Linked DNA regions of Homo sapiens: region 2 is linked to region 1. The links come from fine-mapping of genetic effects on gene expression. Tissue or cell type: whole blood. Region 1 holds a variant in brackets; the other region holds the start of a gene. All regions are shown on one strand. Distances are between the middles of the regions.

Region 1 (8,048 bases):
GAAACCCAAGACTTTCTCTCCTGAGAAAATCTGATACTCAACTCATCAATTGGGGGAAGATTTATACTAGGAGGCAGAAGTATTGCTGACTTTACAGACAGCTTCTTGGCAGAGTTACTTTCAACAGCGGGCACCCCCCCCACCCTACCGGGAATACCCCCACCCTTCCTACACAGCGCTACATCTTGCTGAACGAACCCTAGTAGTAGGCTGCCTGCCAGCCTGCAGCCCCAACAAAAAATGGCAAAAACACAAACTGACGGCACGTGAAACATCAATGGACTCTCCTCCCCGCACAGGGCCACCCAGGCCCCACCACGGGCGGCATGTCCCTAACTCAATTTGGCTTGTGAGGGGTCACAGCCACGCTGGAAACATCTGCACCCAATAGAAGGCGATTTCCCCGGCTGGGGGCCCACCAGCCTGCCCCGGGTCTTTACCCTTCGTGGGGACTTGGACCGGCAGGGCCTGCACTTCCCACGTCCCGGGGTGACGGGAAGGGCGTCCTGCACCCCAACAAGGTCCTGGAGTTGTCTGGGAGATCAGACCGAGGGGAAGGGACGGCGATTTTTTCAAGCCCAGGCGAGGCGGTGGGGTGGAGCGGAGGAAGGAGGCAGGCCCACCGGGACTGGGGGGAGGCGGCCTAGGGCCCCGGGGGGCAGGAAACACCCCAAGCGGTGACAGGGAGCGTCCCGGCGGAGGCGAGTTCGGGAATTGGGAGAGACTCCGGGGCCAGGACGCACAGACAGGAAGCGACGCGGGAGCAGGCCGGGGAGGTGGGGCGGTCGGGAGGAGTCTGGGAGCGGGACTGGGAAGAGCGAGGGGAAGCGGGGCGCGGCCGGGGAGGCAGAGGAAGGGGCGCCGCGGCCCGGGGGTCCCTGCCCGAGGGGGCCCGCGCCCGCCCGCCCTCCTGCGGGCCGCGCCCGGCTCCGCGCCCGCCCAGCCCGGCCTAGGCCCGCGACTCCCGGCGGCCCGGCCCGGCCCTGCCGGCCTCACCGCCCCCACGGCTTCCTGCAGCAGCGCCCCGAGCCGGCTCAGCATGATGGCGCCCGGCCCCCGGCTCCCGGGCGAAAGCGGCGGCGGCAGCGCTCTAGGCGGAGGAGGCAGCCCCGTGGCCCCGGCGGCCCCGGCGCGACGAGGGGGGCGGGGCCCGGCCGCTCCGCCCCTTCCCGGCCCGGCTGCGTGGCGCTGGCTAACCCCGGCTGGGGGCGCCCAGTCGGGCTGGGAACCGCCAGCGGTGGGCCCTGAGAGTTGGCTGGGAGGTGTTTTTTTTTTTTTTTTTTTTCTTTCCTTTCTTCCGAGACAGGGTCTCGCTTGGTCGCCCAGGCTGGAGTGTAGTGGCGCGATCTCTGCTCATTGCAGCCTCCAACTCCTGGACTCATGCGATCCTCCAACCCCGGCCTCCAGAGTAGCTGGGTCCACAGGCGCGCGCCACCACGCCTGGCCAATTGTTTTTTTTTTTTGTTTTTTTACTGGGAGGGGAGGTCTCACTGTGCTGCCTAGGATGATCTCCAGCTCCTGGCCTCAAGCGACCCTCCCGCCAGGGCCTCCTGAGTAGCTGGGATTAAGGCGGGAGCTAAGGGAGGTGTTTTCGAAGAGAAATTACAATTCCTCCTGAATTGAAGTCTCAGTCAGCCCCAGGCACATGGGCTGATGAGCTCCTGAAATGTGCTGGTCCCAACCAAGATGTGCCGTGCCAAGCACACCCCGATTTGGAAGATACAGTAAGAAAGGAAAGTGTGAAACTGCAACAACCATGGCTTATATTGATTACATATTGAAATGACTATTAGGTGTGTTGGGTTAAATAACGTATATTGTTAAAATTAACTTCACGTGTTGCTTTTTACTTTTTTGACAGGGCTATCAGAAAATGTTTATGGGCTGTGGGCGGTGGCTCACACCTGTAATCCCAGCACTTTGGGAGGCCAAGGCGGTTTGATCACTTGAGGCCAGGAGTTTGAGACCAGCCTGGCCAACATGGTGAAAACCCGTCTCTACTAAAAATACAAAAAAATTAGCCAAGCGTGGTGGTATGTGGAGGCTAAGGTGGGAGAATCACTTGAACCCGAGAGGCAGAGGTTGCAGTGAGCCAAGATCGTGCCAGTGCACTCCAGCCCGGGCAACAGAGTGAGACCGTCTCAAAAAAAAAAAAAAAAAAAAAAAAGTCTGCAGCTGAGTGTGGTGGCTCAAGCCTGAAATCCTAGCACTTTAGGAGGCCAAGGCTGTTGACCAGCCTGGGCAACATATGAAGATCCTGTCTTGACAAAAAATAAAAATACAAAATAACCAGGTGTGGTGGTATGTGCCTGTAGTCCAAGCTGCTCGGGAGACTGAGGTGGGAGGAGGATCACTTGAACCCAGGAGTTCGAGGCTGCAATGAGCTATGATCGTGCCCCTGCAGTCCAGACTGGGTGACAGCAAAATAGTGTCTCTCTAAGAAACAAAAACCAGTGTCTCTGCTTATCACTGACATCATATTGTGTCCGGAATTGGTAGGTTCATTGGTCTCACTGACTTCAAGAATGAAGCTGTAGACCCTTGCAGGGAGTGTTACAGCTCTTAAGGTGGCACGTCTGGAGTTTGCTCTGATGTTCGGATGTGTTTGGACTTTCTTCCTTCTAGTGGGTTCGATGGTCTCGCTGGCTTAGGGGTGAAGCTGCAGACCCTCGCGGTGAGTGCTACAGCTCTTAAGGCGGCGCGTCTGGAGTTTTTAGTTCCGCCTGTTGGGTTCGTGGTCTCGCTGACTTCAGGAGTGAAGCTGCACACCTTTGCCGTCAGTGTTACAGCTCACAAAAGCAGTGGGAAACCCAAAGAACGAACAGCAGCAACTTATTGCAAAAAGTGAAAGAAAAAAACTTCCACAGTGTGGAAAGGAACCCAAGCGAGTTGCCACTGCTACCTTGGGCAGCCTGCTTTTATTCTCTTATCTGGCCCCACCCTCATCCTGCTGATTGGTAGAGCCCAGTGGTCTGTTTTGACAGGGCGCTGATTGGTGCGTTTACAATCCCTGAGCTAGACACAAAGGTTCTCCACGTCCCCATCAGATTAACTAGATGCAGAGTGTTGACACAAAGGTTCTCCAAGGCCCCACCAGAGCAGCTAGACACAGAGTGTCGATTGGTGCACTCACAAACCCTGAGCTAGACACACGGTGCTGATTGGTGTGTTTACAAACCTTGAGCTAGATACAGAGTGCCCATTGGTGTATTTACAATCCCTGGGCTAGACATAAAGGTTCTCCACGTCCCCACCAGACTCAGGAGCCCAGCTGGCTTCACCGAGTGGATCCCGCACCGGGGCTGCAGGTGGAGCTGCCTGCCAGTCCCGCGCCGTGCTCCCGCGCCGTGCGCCCGCACTCCTCAGCCCTTGGGTGGTCGATGGGACTGGGCGCCCTGGAGCAGGGGGCGGCGCTCGTCGGGGAGGCTCCGGCCGCACAGGAGCCCACGGAGCGGGTGGGAGGCTC[C/A]GGTATGGGCGGGCTTCAGGTCCCGAGCGCTGCCCCGCGGGAAGGCAGCTAAGGCCCGGTGAGAAATCGAGCGCAGCGCCGGTGGGCTGGCACTGCTGGGGGACCCAGTACACCCTCCGCAGCTGCTGGCCCGGGTGCTAAGCCCCTCATTGCCCGGGGCCTGCAGGGCCGGCCGGCTGCTCCGAGTGCGGGGCCCGCCAAGCCCAAGCCCACCCGGAACTCCAGCTGGCCCGCAATCGCCGCGCGCAGCCCCGGTTCCCGTTCGTGCCTTTCCCTCCACACCTCCCTACAAGCTGAGGGAGCCGGCTCCGGCCTTGGCCAGCCCAGAAAGGGGCTCCCAAAGTGCAGCGGTGGGCTGAAGGGCTCCTCAAGTGCCGCCAAAGTGGGAACCCAGGCAGAGGAGGCGCCGAGAGCGCTGTGAGGACTGCCAGCACGCTGTCACCTCTCAATATGACGAGAGGGAAAGGAATCAGTTTCCCTCGGGAAGGAAGAATAGCCCCTGTCAGAATTATAGAACCTAGAGTTTTGGGGTCTCGGGCTTCACAGGACCTGCCTCACCTTTTAGGACCCATTCCCCAGTGGGGCTGAGGCACAGGAAATGCTGACCTGCCCAGAGTGGGCTCTGTGCTGTGGTGTGGAGCCTGCAGTCCAGACTCTGAGCCAGGGTGGCCAGTGTCTGGGCCTCAGGCCCTGAGGAGGGCCAGGGTTCAGCCAAGCCCAGGCTGAGTGAGAATTGATTGGGACCTCAGTTCTCTGACAGGTGGGAGTTCCAATTCAGTCTCTGCAGATTTCTAGGCCCACCTCCTCACAGGTAAAGGACCCAGGCTGGATAGGTCAAATCAGCTTGCTTCCCTTCAGCATGTCTCAGAGGACTCTAGGGGATAATGAAAGTACATCAGGAGTTCATAACCTTTTATTCGACTTAACTTTTTACATGTTATTTTTAAAACTCTAATAAAAGTCAGTGTACACACTACATGTGTTATAGTCCAGAAATATCAAAGACCATGAGGTTTTATTAAATTCTGAGGCCAGGTTAGCCCATTTAGGGGAAGACCTTTGAAAAAAGCCTCTCCTATCAGCTTAAATGAAGAGTTGAAGATGATTTCACGGTAAACTGAGTTTTATGTATTCTTTTTTTTTTTTTTTTTTTGAGGAGTCTCGCTCTGTCGCCCAGGCTGGAGTGCAGTGGTACAATCTTGGTTCACTGCAAGCTCTGCCTCCTGGGTTCACGCCATTCTCCTGCCTCAGCCTCCCAAATAGCTGGGCCTACAGGTGCCCGCCACCACGCCCGGCTAATTTTTTGTATTTTTAGTAGAGACAGGGTTTCACCGTGTTAGCCAAGATGGTCTGGATCTCCTGACCTCGTGATCTGCCCACCTTGACCTCCCAAAATGCTGGGATTACAGACGTGAGCCACCACGCCCAGCCCCTATGTATTCATTTTTTTTTTTTAGATGGGGTCTTGCTATGTTTCCCAGGCTGGTCTCAAACTCTTGACCTCAAGTGATCTTCCTGCCTCAGCCTCCCGAGTAACACGGGTAAGCTGCTTTAAACATGCAAGGCATGAAGGCCAGATTCAAGGAGAAGGCCATATGGCTGGGTGCGGTGGCTCATGCCTGTAATCCCAGCACTTTGGGAGGCCAAAGCAGACAGATCACCTGAGGTAGGAGTTTGAGACCAGCCTGGCCAGCATGGTGAAAACCCCATCTCTACGAAAAATGTAAAAAATTAGCCGGGCGTGGTGGTGGGCACCTGTAGTTCCAGCTATTTGGGAGGCTGAGGCAGGAGAATCGCTTGAACTCAGGAGGTGGAGGTTGCAGTGAGTTGACATTGCACCATTGCACTCCAGCCTGGGTGACAAGAGAGAAACTCTGACTCAAAAAAAAAAAAAAAAAAAAAGCCATATAGTCAATGACTCTCAATGTGAAATAATTTGCTCATGCTTTAATTTTTTCATTTTTTATTTATTTATGTGTGTGTTGTGGGGAGGAGGCACTGAGAGGCTCTTCCTAAGGCTTTGTTTTAGGGACAAAGAGCTCCAGTCTGAGCTGCTCTAATTTTTTTTTTTTTTTAATTTTAGTAGAGATGGGTTTTCACCATGCTGGCCAGGCTGGTCTCAAACTCCTGACCTCAGGTGATCCACCTGCCTTGGCCTCCCAGAGTGCTGGGATTACAGGGGTGAGCCACCGCGCCCAGCCTTCTTTTTTTTTTTTTTTTCCATAGGTTATTGGAGAACAGGTGGTGTTTGGTTACATGAATAAGTTCTTCAGTGATGATTTGTGAGATATTGGTGCACCCATCACCCGAGCGGTATACACTGCACCCAATTTGTAGTCTTTTATCCCTCGCCCCTTTCCCACCCTTTCCCCCTGAGTCCCCAGAGTCCATCGTGGGTTTTTTGTTTGTTTTTTTGTGACAGAGTCTTGCTCTGTAGCCCAGGCTGGAGTGCAGTGGCACGACCTCGGCCTACTGCAACCTCTGCCTCCCAGGTTCAAGCGATTCTCATGCCTCAGCCTCCTGAGTAGCTCGGATTACAGGCGTGTGCCACCATGCCCAGCTAATTTTGTGTATGTTTAGTAGAGACGGGGTTTCGCCATGTTGCCCAGGCTGGTCTCAAACTTCTGAGCTTAGGCAATCCTCCCGCCTCGGCCTCCCAAAGTGCTGGGATTACAGGCTTAAGCCACTGCGCCTGGTCCCTTGTGACGTTCTTATGCCTTTGCGACCTCATAGCTTAGCTCCCACTTATGAGTGAGAACATATGATGTTTGGTTTTCCACTCCTGAGTTACTTCACTTAGAATAATAGTCTCCAGTGCCATCCAGGTTGCTGTGAATACCATTAGTTCATTCCTTTTTATGGCTGAGTAATATCCCATCATGTATATGCTCTAAATTCTCATGAATTGAAAATCCTTTGGGACCTAGGGTCAAACCTGCCCGTACTACATACAGTTCCCAAACCCTGTCTCCAGCACCCCTTAGGGTTCAATGACCTTGACATTTTCCCGAACAGCCTGGGAGCTCTTTTTGGACAACGGGCACGTCAACCTGGTCACTGCTGTGTTCCCCATGCTCAGAGCAGGGTTAAGCCCCCCAGCAGTTTCTGAATGCCTTGTATTGGGTATGTGTGCAGAGCCCATTTCTTTCTGCCCCTCCTAGTCTGCCCTCCTCTGCTTCTCCTTCACAGACAACAGTACCTATTGGGAAAGTCCTAGAAACCTGAATCCTGTCACCACTCTCCACTCATTGGTTTCCTGTAGCTCTGGGCTTCAGAGGAATTGTCTCTGTCCCACCATTTTCTCATTTGCTAAGAAGATGACAGTGATCTGTTCTGTTGACCTCATAGGTTTGCTGAAGGGATAAAATGATGTTGTGGATGCAACAGAACTCCTACAATGTAAAATAATCGTTCACATTTGAGGGGTTCTTATCCACTTTGCTTATTTCAGCCACAGGGGCTAGGAACTCAACCAGGGTACTCAGGCTAGGCCCCAGCTCCAGTCGCAGGTTCACAAGTTGCGCACCCTCCAACTCACCTGGTCCCTCTGACTGCACGCCTCTTCATGTGCCCACACATGGTTCTGCTCCAGCCAGGTGGGGCTGGCCCCTCCCCACGTAAGCACCCACACCTGCAGGCAGTCCTCCTTCTGGTCTTCCCGTCAGATCCGCAGCCCCTCTCCCACCTCCCACCCGCAACACGCAATTCCCTGTCTTTTCCCCTTGGGAGGCCTTACCAAGTCAACCAAGACCAAATTCCCATCTTCCTCCCTTGGCCTCCACTTGACTCGTCCTCCAACTGCCATTTCTCCATTCCTTAGTTTCCCCTGCCTGATTCTTGGCAATCAGCTCACCACACACTCACATCCTGCTGACCTTTTCTGTGTTCGGCCTCCCCATTGAACCATGAGCACCCTGCCCCTTGGGAGGGACAACCATGTCTGATGTTGAGCTTGGCTACCAAGGCGAGCACGTTGGGATTTGGTGGAGGGCTGGGGCAGTCTTTCCTCCCAGCCAGTTCTCTACCAGCCTCCTCCCTGAGGTGTGAGTTCCCTCTGGCCCCAAACACAAGGGTTCCTGCCCCCATCACAGAGTCCCTGAAGGAGAGGCAGACAGGCCCCTGTCTAGACAGCCCCTGCTTCTGTGGCCCAGGCTTGGGGGAAAGAGTACTGCGGGGCTGTGTCTCCAGCCCTCCAGCCCTAGGCGGCCCCTGCATTGGAACCCTTGCTCCCAGGGCTTCCCTCTGCCTGATATGGCTTGTCTCGTTCACCCAGGTCTGGTGGCTCATAAGGAAAAGACAGATGTAGGGACCCAATGCAACCTTTTAATTCCAAGCAGAGTCCCCCTCCCCCAGCATGGTCACACACACAGTGGAAAGGGATGTCAGGGTCTGGGCAGGAGCAATACCCAGACCTGGGCAAAAATATAGATATCATTATATACACACGTGGACTGGAAAGAAGTCAAGCTGGGGGTGTAAGGTAGGGCAGGGGCAGGTGAGGAAAGCAGCTGGGGGGGCCCCAATAAATTACATTCTTGAGAGAGCATAGTGTGTGGGGGGGTGCGTGGGTGTAGGTGAGAGC
Region 2 (8,055 bases), 23 kb before region 1:
GGCTGGTCTCGAACTCCTGGGCTCAAGCAATGTGCCCACCTTGGCCTTCCAAAGTTCTGGGATTACAAGCGTGATCCACCATGCCCCACTTCATCTTCTGTAGCCATGTCCTGATGTCACCTCAGAACCCCAAATCTGGAGTATTTCCTGTGGGAAGATGGTTCTCTGAATTTTACCCATTGGGGTGGGAACAGTGCACCACTAAACCTCTGTCTTCCCCTCAAGACCTTATCTCCTCTTAACCGCCTCTGGCCTTCCAGGTGGGTCACAATGCCCTTGAGGACATATTTGGTCTCTTTGTAAACAGAAGTGAATCAATGTTCATTTGTTCCAGCACTGTTCCTGAGAATGCAGCCGGACCAGGTAGGGACTGACTCGGAGACTCGTCTTGGGGCACTCTGTGGCACTGTTCCTCAGAGACCCTTGGGCCTCTGCTGCTCACAGGGTCTACCAGCTGTGCTCTGCCTGCAGCCCCTCTGTCGCTCAGAAATCCCAGACATACAACCAGCCAAGCTGGAAGTGAGCGCAGGGTTGCATACCCAATGCCTTCTTTCCTTTTCTCTGATAAAATTCTCAGACTTTTTATTTTCCCTTTTTACCCAGGAGCATAGATTCGAGTTGCCCTGAATATACATGCTCAGGCTTTTTATTTTGAAATAATTTTAGATTTACAGCTGAGTCACAAAGATAGCACAGGAAGTTCCCAATTATCCTTCACCCAGCCTCCCCTATTGTGAACATCTTACATAACCATGGTGCCTTGATCAAAACTACGACATTAATATTGATACCACACTACGAACGAAGCAACAGGCCTCACCAGGATTTCACCAGTTTTTTCATGAATGCCCTTTTTCTGTTCCAGGATCCAACCATGCCTGCATTTGACAGATGGCCTGGAGGGTAGATGTGGCGTCCCCAGGGTCCCTCAGAGAGCTAGCCTGTGGCCAGCCCTCCCTCTCCCGCTGTAGCTTGGGTTCCTGCCCTCCTCACCTTCCTACCTTGTCAAGACACAGGCCTTGTTGCTCTGTCCATGGCTCTAGCATCACAGATGCCCTGATACAACCTTGCCCTGCCTGTCCCTATCCCCATCCCCATCCCCATGGTCGCCTACCCAGGCCTTCCTGCTCCTGTGCTCCCCCCATCCCACCCCCACCGCACATGCGCACATATGCCCTGAAACGGCTGGCTCTGGCTTGGCTCCCAAGGGTGCTGGGAGCATTAAGCTACTCCCATTCACCATACTGTGCGGCCCGCCACACTGGCCAGGGTTCTTCCCTCTCTGTGACTGGAGGACACACAGTTGACTTGATGGGGACACTGGTGGTTCCTATCTAGCCTCCCGTCCTCCCTCAGCTGCCTCCCTTGTCTCAGGGCCTCTCCAGCCTCTGTCTCACTGCTGTTCTCTCCCAAGGCCTTGGGAACTCCTGCCTCTTTGTTGTCTCAGCACTCCCTTCACAGTTTACAAGAGGCTTTGGGGGAGGGCTTTACCCCCCGGGATAATGGGAGGCGTGGAGCCACGGTTTGCTGCGGTCTTTGCTCTCTGGGCAGTGAGGCCTTCTGTTGTTTACCTTAGGCTGCCTCTGAAGCTCCCAGATCCCTGCCTAGACATGATCTCACTCTCTCAAATCATCCCTGCGAGGCAGACAGGAGTCTGGGTCCAACTTCCCCCACTTCACAGGTGGGAAAACTGAGGGATTCACACATGTGTGTGCCGCAAGACACACACACACACACACACACACACACACACACACACACACACAGAGCAAATATGTTGACAAGTTGCTCTGCAGTCCTGGGGTCCTGTGCCTGCAGTTATTTGGAAGGTGAGAGGTCCATGATAGGGCCTGGCCCAGCGGCGTTCAGCAAGTGCCTCAAAATTCATGGGCCTTCTAGTGATATCCCACAGCCTAACACAGGGCCCTGCCTCCAGGGAGCCTGTGGTCAGTATCAGCAGGTGAGAGGAGCCTAAAGAGATGCATCCTGCGTTGCTGAAGTTCCTGAGTCCAGTTCTAAGGCAGCTCTACAGGCACATTTCGCCAGGCATGGTGGCTCATGCCTGCAACCACAGCACTTTGGAAGGCCAAGGTGGGAGGATCACTGAGGCCAGGAGTTCAAGACCAGCCTGGGCAATACAGCAAGACCCTCGTTTCTACAAAGAATTAAAAATTAAAAATTTAGCCAGGCGTGGTGGTGCACACCTGCAGTCCCAGCTACTCAGGAGTCTGAGGCAGGAGGATGACTCGAATCCAAGAGATCAAGTCTGCAGTAGGAGCTGTGATCACGCCACTGCACCTCCAATCTGAGCAACACAGTGAAACCCTGACTCTAGGGGATAACAAAAGTCACATTTCATGAGGGCAGGCCTTGCGTGTGGTAGCAAGAGCTATGGTGGAGAGGGACCACCCCTGAGGGTTGGTGGGCTGCCTGGGGACGGTGCCCAGTGCTGGACAATCCACACAGCTCCTCTCCAATTGTTGTGGCTTCCCAACACCCCTGTAAAAGAAGAATTGCTATGATCCTGCTCTACAAATAAGAAAATTGAGGCCCACAGCTCACCCAGGAGCACAGAGCAAGCCAGTCAGCAGTGGCTGGCCATCTGGCTGCAGGTCCTGAGCTTTGTCCACACCACCAAGCCACAGTCTCCCTAGCAGGGAGGCGCACAAAACTATCAGAGGCAGAGGAAAGGGGTGGCCTCTGCCAGGTGAGGAGCCAGACGGCCTGCTTCGCAGATCCCTTCCAGCTGGCTTTGCCTTCCAGTGCTGAGGTGGGGTGAAGGAGGAAAGGCCGAGCTGGGAGAGGAGCAGGCGCTCGCCACAACCACCCCCACCCTGCTCTCCACGCGCCAGGTCCTGCACGCTGGGTGGGAGGGTGACGACAAGGATGGAGGAGCAGGGCCCCACCCCCGCCCTCCCAGGGCGCACCATCTGCAGCAGAGAGGGCCTTGAGCTGCGTGGGAAATGCGGTAGGCAGAGGGACACTGATGAGGGTGGGCCGGCTGACGGCAGCCTTCTCTCAGCCCCGGACCCCTCCCGCCATCCCCAGCCCTGCCCCCTCCCTCCTTCCAGCGCCTGTCACTCTTCCTGCCCAAACCAAGCATTTAGCACTTAGCCTCGAACCCTCAGCTGACTCCTCATCTAGGACTCCGTCCATCTCTCCAACTATTGCAGAATCTCCTTCAAGGCAGGGGTTTATGTCCCCCACCCCACGGGCCATGTGACATTTATAACTCTTTGGTGGAATGAGAAGAAAGGTATTTGGGATATGATCAACTCCGGCAATGCCATTGTGTGTTTACGGCAACAGCGGGACAGTGGTTCCAGGGGGCGGCCCCGGGCCTCCGTGACGTCACCGGATTGTCGCGTCACCGTCGCCTACCCCGGCGGCGCAACGCGCCCTGCAGGAAAGATGACGTCACCGTCGGAGCTCCTGCAGACCAGTGCGCGCTCGGGGAGTTGGCGAGCGGGTGGCGGCTGGGAGACGTCCCGAGCGCACGGGACTGACAGGCGGCAGAAGCCGGGCGGGGTCCGCTGGGCTCCGGACCCGTGCCCCCCCAGTTCCAGGGCGGCCCCGGGCGGCCCCGCCCCCTCGGTGAATGCCGCGGGCCGGCCAATCCGGGCAGGCCGCGGCGCCGCGCAGCCTATCAGCGGCCAGAGCTCGCGTGCGCTTCCGCGTTCGCGTGCGCTTCCGCGTTCTCGTGAGCTCCCGGCCCGCTGCCGCAGGGACTGGGAGCGGGCTCCGCAGCGCACTCTAGCCCGCGGCTCGGCTCAGTCGGTCTGCGAGGATCCGGCCCGCCGCCCCCCGGGGGACCCGATGGCCTCGGAGGGCCTGGCGGGGGCGCTGGCTTCCGTGCTGGCTGGCCAGGGGTCCAGCGTGCACAGCTGCGACTCGGCGCCGGCCGGGGAGCCGCCGGCGCCCGTGCGGCTGCGGAAGAACGTGTGCTACGTGGTGCTGGCCGTGTTCCTCAGCGAGCAGGTGAGCGGCCGCCCCCGGGCCCGCCGGGCCTCGGGAGCGCGCAGCCAGCCCAGGTGGGGACAGAAGACCCAACGGCCACAGCCAGCGCTGCCGCGTGCGTGGCGCTTCCCAGTTTTGCAAAGCACTCCCACTCCCACTCGCATCTGTGTCCTGCGTTCGTCCCGATATGCAGAAGAGGAAACTGAGGCCCGGGGCCTGTTTGTCTCATCCGACTAGGCCTCATTCCTTCCCTTCCCCAGAGTCTAGCGGAGTGCCCAGGGCCCCTCAGATAGCAGTGGCTCAATCCCGGCTTACCTTCAGGCCTTTGGTGCTGATGCCTGTAGTGGGCGATGTAATGACAACTAGACGGGGCCAGGGCCATAGGGCGGGGTTGTACAGAGCGGAGGTGGGGGTCGTGTTTCAAGCCAGACCCCAGTGTGAGGACCCATCACAGTTTGTAAACCACGCCGTTGGAGGCGAGAGATACACAGTGGCAGGTACAGACGCAAATCAATCCAAGACAGACAGACACATGGTGACCCTCACTCTGGGGCCTCATCTCCAGCCCCTGAAGCGGCTTCCAGGAATCTCAGCCCTTCCTGAAATGGAAGTCTTCCTAAATCCAGAGAGAGACGAATTGCAGAGAGGAGAGGGCTGCAGCCCCCAGCGACACGAGGGCAGGTCTCCTGGAGCGCTAGCTGGGTTGAGAGTGTCCACCCAGAGGGGAGTCTTGGGCGACTGTGTTTGAGATGCCCCCTGGTCCCGGGGCGAGGGAAGGCTGTGGCAGGAAGTGAGGATCCTCTCTCCTCTCAGGATGAGGTGCTACTGATCCAGGAGGCCAAGAGGGAGTGCCGGGGGTCGTGGTACCTGCCTGCGGGGAGAATGGAGCCAGGGGAGACCATCGTGGAGGCGCTGCAGCGGGAGGTGAAGGAGGAGGCGGGGCTGCACTGTGAGCCCGAGACACTGCTGTCCGTGGAGGAGCGGGGCCCCTCCTGGGTCCGCTTCGTGTTCCTCGCTCGCCCCACAGGTATGGCCCACCTGGAGGCAGTGTGAACAGGGCCAGTTGACACCTTTCCCCCAGCTCCTCGGTGAGGTGAGCCCCTCTACAGCCAGTCCTGTTATGGCTGGCACAGCCTGGCATGGGCAGATTCCAGCCTTTGGGCTGGGGGCCTCTCTCCTGGGTCAGGGATGTCTGTTGACTCTGCCAGAGCTGCACTTCTCTCCACACAGACCCTCCCTGCCCCATCCCCCACATCTCCCCCAGGTGGAATTCTCAAGACTTCCAAGGAGGCCGATGCGGAGTCCCTGCAGGCTGCCTGGTACCCACGGACCTCCCTGCCCACTCCGCTGCGAGCCCATGACATCCTGCACCTGGTTGAACTAGCCGCCCAGTATCGCCAGCAAGCCAGGCACCCTCTCATTCTGCCCCAAGAGCTACCCTGTGATCTGGTCTGCCAGCGGCTCGTGGCTACCTTTACCAGCGCCCAGACAGTGTGGGTGTTAGTGGGCACAGTGGGGATGCCTCACTTGCCTGTCACTGCCTGTGGCCTCGACCCTATGGAGCAGAGGGGTGGCATGAAGATGGCCGTCCTGCGGCTGCTGCAGGAGTGTCTGACCCTGCACCACTTGGTGGTGGAGATCAAGGGGTTGCTTGGACTGCAGCACCTGGGCCGAGATCACAGTGATGGCATCTGTTTGAATGTGCTGGTGACCGTGGCTTTTCGGAGCCCAGGGATCCAGGATGAACCCCCAAAAGTTCGGGGTGAGAACTTCTCTTGGTGGAAGGTGATGGAGGAAGACCTGCAAAGCCAGCTCCTCCAGCGGCTTCAGGGATCCTCTGTTGTCCCAGTGAACAGATAGAGAGGTGGGGGAGGTGACAGGGAGCTAGGCAGCCGTGCTCCCTCCAGTGCGGACTTGTCTCCCTCTGAGGGAGGCAAGAGGCTGGCGATCAGGGATCTTGTTGCATTGGGAGCAGGGGCGGCTCTCCTGGTCCCCAGGAGAGATGCTTTGAGGAGCATTCCTCTAGATTGCACAAGGGACAGTGCCTTTAACCAAGCGAGGAGTCCAAAGCTCAGGACCTGACTACCCTGAGGGCACGCTGACGCCTCTTCCCAGGGGGATGGGGAGCTTTCTGCACCCCCAGTGGCATCTCCTCATCACGTTCTGTGCCGTCCTTGGGAAAGGCCTGCATTCTGATCCTTCCAGGCCCTTCGAGCATGGAGGGGCACTGGGGAAGGTCCCCCGAGGGAGGAGCACGTTGCTGAGTAAAGAGGTGTTACTCACCTTGCCTCCCTGCCTACACGTCTCTGTGGGGAGAAAGTGATGGGGACTACTGTCCAGGAGCTGCTGCTCCCCTCGTGTTACCCACAGGCACCCATGCCTTTCCCAGTGCACTGACAGTGCGGGCCAGTCTGCTGTCCAGCACGGCCCCTGGGGCTCCCTCCAGTTGGCCTGCTGGCCCGGGATGTGACTCTGAGGGGACCCATCCCTAATGAAACACAGCTCTGAGCCCTCCAAGGGTTGGGCAGTGGGCGGCCCCAGAGGAACTTCAAGTGGGACAGGAGCTGCAGGTGCTGCCTCTGCTCTCTCCTTGAGCCTCCCTGGCGCAGACCACTCCCCCTGGCTCTCCTGCCTCTGCCTTTTCACAACTTCAGCCCATGCCAGACCAAACCTTTTCTTCATTTCCCCTCAGCCTCGCTGAATCATGGTAGGATTTTTTTTTTTTTTTTTTTTTTTTTTTGCTAAGTGGCCGGGCACAGTGGCTCACACCTGTAATCCCAACACTTTGGTAGGCTGACACAGGTGGATCACTTGAGGTCAGGGAGTTCGAGACCAGCCTGGCCAACATGGCAAAACCCCATCTCTACTAAAAATACAAAAAACTAGCCGGGCATGTTGGCAGATGCCTGTAATCTCAGATACTTAGGAGGCTGAGGCAGGAGAATCGCTTGAACCCCGGAGGCAAAGGTTGCAGTGAGCCGAGCTCCAGCCTGGGTGATAGACTTCGTCTGAAAAAAAAAAAAAAAAAAAAAGAACTTTGGCCAGGCACGGTGGCTCACACCTTTAACCCCAGTGCTTTGGGAGGCTGAGGCAGGAGGATCGCTTGAAGGCCAGAGTTTGAAGCCAGCCTGGGCAACATAGTGAGACCCTGTGTCTACAGGAAAAAAAAAAGGCCAGGCAAGGTGGTGCACACCTGTAAATCCCAGCTATTCAGGAGGCTGAGGCAGGAGGATGGCTTGAGCCCGGGAGGTTGAGGCTGCAGTGAGCCATGCTCAGGCCACTGCACTCCAGTCTGGGTGAGACAGCAAGACCCTCTCTCAAAAGAAAAAAGAAAAGAAAGAGGAAAAAAAGAACTTTACTGAAATTTAAGCAAAATCAAAGGAAATGAACAAATAAAATATATCAAGTGTTCTACGGTAGAGATTTCTGATTCTGAGCAAGGAAACACTAGCACAGGCTCCCCTTCTGAGGGCCAAGATGACCTCCAAGGCCCCTTTCCCAGCCCCCTCCCTGCCTCTCTTGGCTGCCCTCCTTTCTGGGCCCTGGAGGGTGGTAGGAATCCTTGTACCCTCTGAGGACAAATACCTCACAAATGATGGAACCAAACCCCTTTGTTTCAGTTCACTTCTCTCAGTGTCTAAGGGACCCACTGGCCCATATCCAGTCAGCCGGGCAATGACATTTGGCTATTTGCCCCCATTATTTAGCCTAGTAGTTTCCAACCCTGGGCACACGTTAGGGTCACCTGGGTTTTTTTTTTTTTCCCTCAAACAGGGTCTTGCTCTGTCACCCAGGCTGGAGTGGAGTGGTGTGATCCTGGCTCACTGCAGCCTTGACCTCCCAGGCTCAAGTGACAAGTGATTCTCCTGCCTCAGCCTCCCAAGTAGCTGGAACCACAGGCGCATTTTTAAGCTTTTAGTAGAGATGGGGTTCTCACTATGTTGCCAAGGCTGGTCTTGAACTTCTGTCCTCAAGTGATCCTCCCGCCTCAGCCTCCCAAGGTACTAGGATTATAGGCGTGAGCCACCATGCACAACCACCTGGAGAGCTTGAACTCTGGGTGTACCCCCAGCAACAATAATTTAACTGGTGATGGGG

Evidence for each region. PIP is the estimated chance that this variant, and not a neighbour inherited with it, causes the effect.
Region 2: NUDT18 starts here. The variant in region 1 is fine-mapped to the expression of NUDT18 in whole blood (TOPMed, PIP above 0.99).

Annotation. Positions count from the first base shown.
Region 1 is chr8:22,082,247-22,090,294 of GRCh38, reverse strand. It overlaps DMTN (dematin actin binding protein), which reads right to left. Exons shown (of 16, transcript NM_001387751.1): 16 at 7,770-8,048. It overlaps FHIP2B (FHF complex subunit HOOK interacting protein 2B), which reads right to left and starts at 1,145. Exons shown (of 17, transcript NM_022749.7): 1 at 997-1,145. The coding sequence starts at 1,041. RefSeq lists enhancers at 266-405, 3,505-4,114 and silencers at 626-725, 916-975, 1,036-1,255. The variant C/A (reference allele first, on the strand shown) is at 3,467.
Region 2 is chr8:22,105,062-22,113,116 of GRCh38, reverse strand. It overlaps NUDT18 (nudix hydrolase 18), which reads left to right and starts at 3,698. Exons shown (of 3, transcript NM_024815.4): 1 at 3,698-3,978; 2 at 4,771-4,984; 3 at 5,222-6,239. The coding sequence starts at 3,817. The coding sequence ends at 5,817. RefSeq lists enhancers at 672-1,171, 4,584-5,357, 5,754-5,898, silencers at 863-1,228, 3,345-4,124 and a cis regulatory region at 5,826.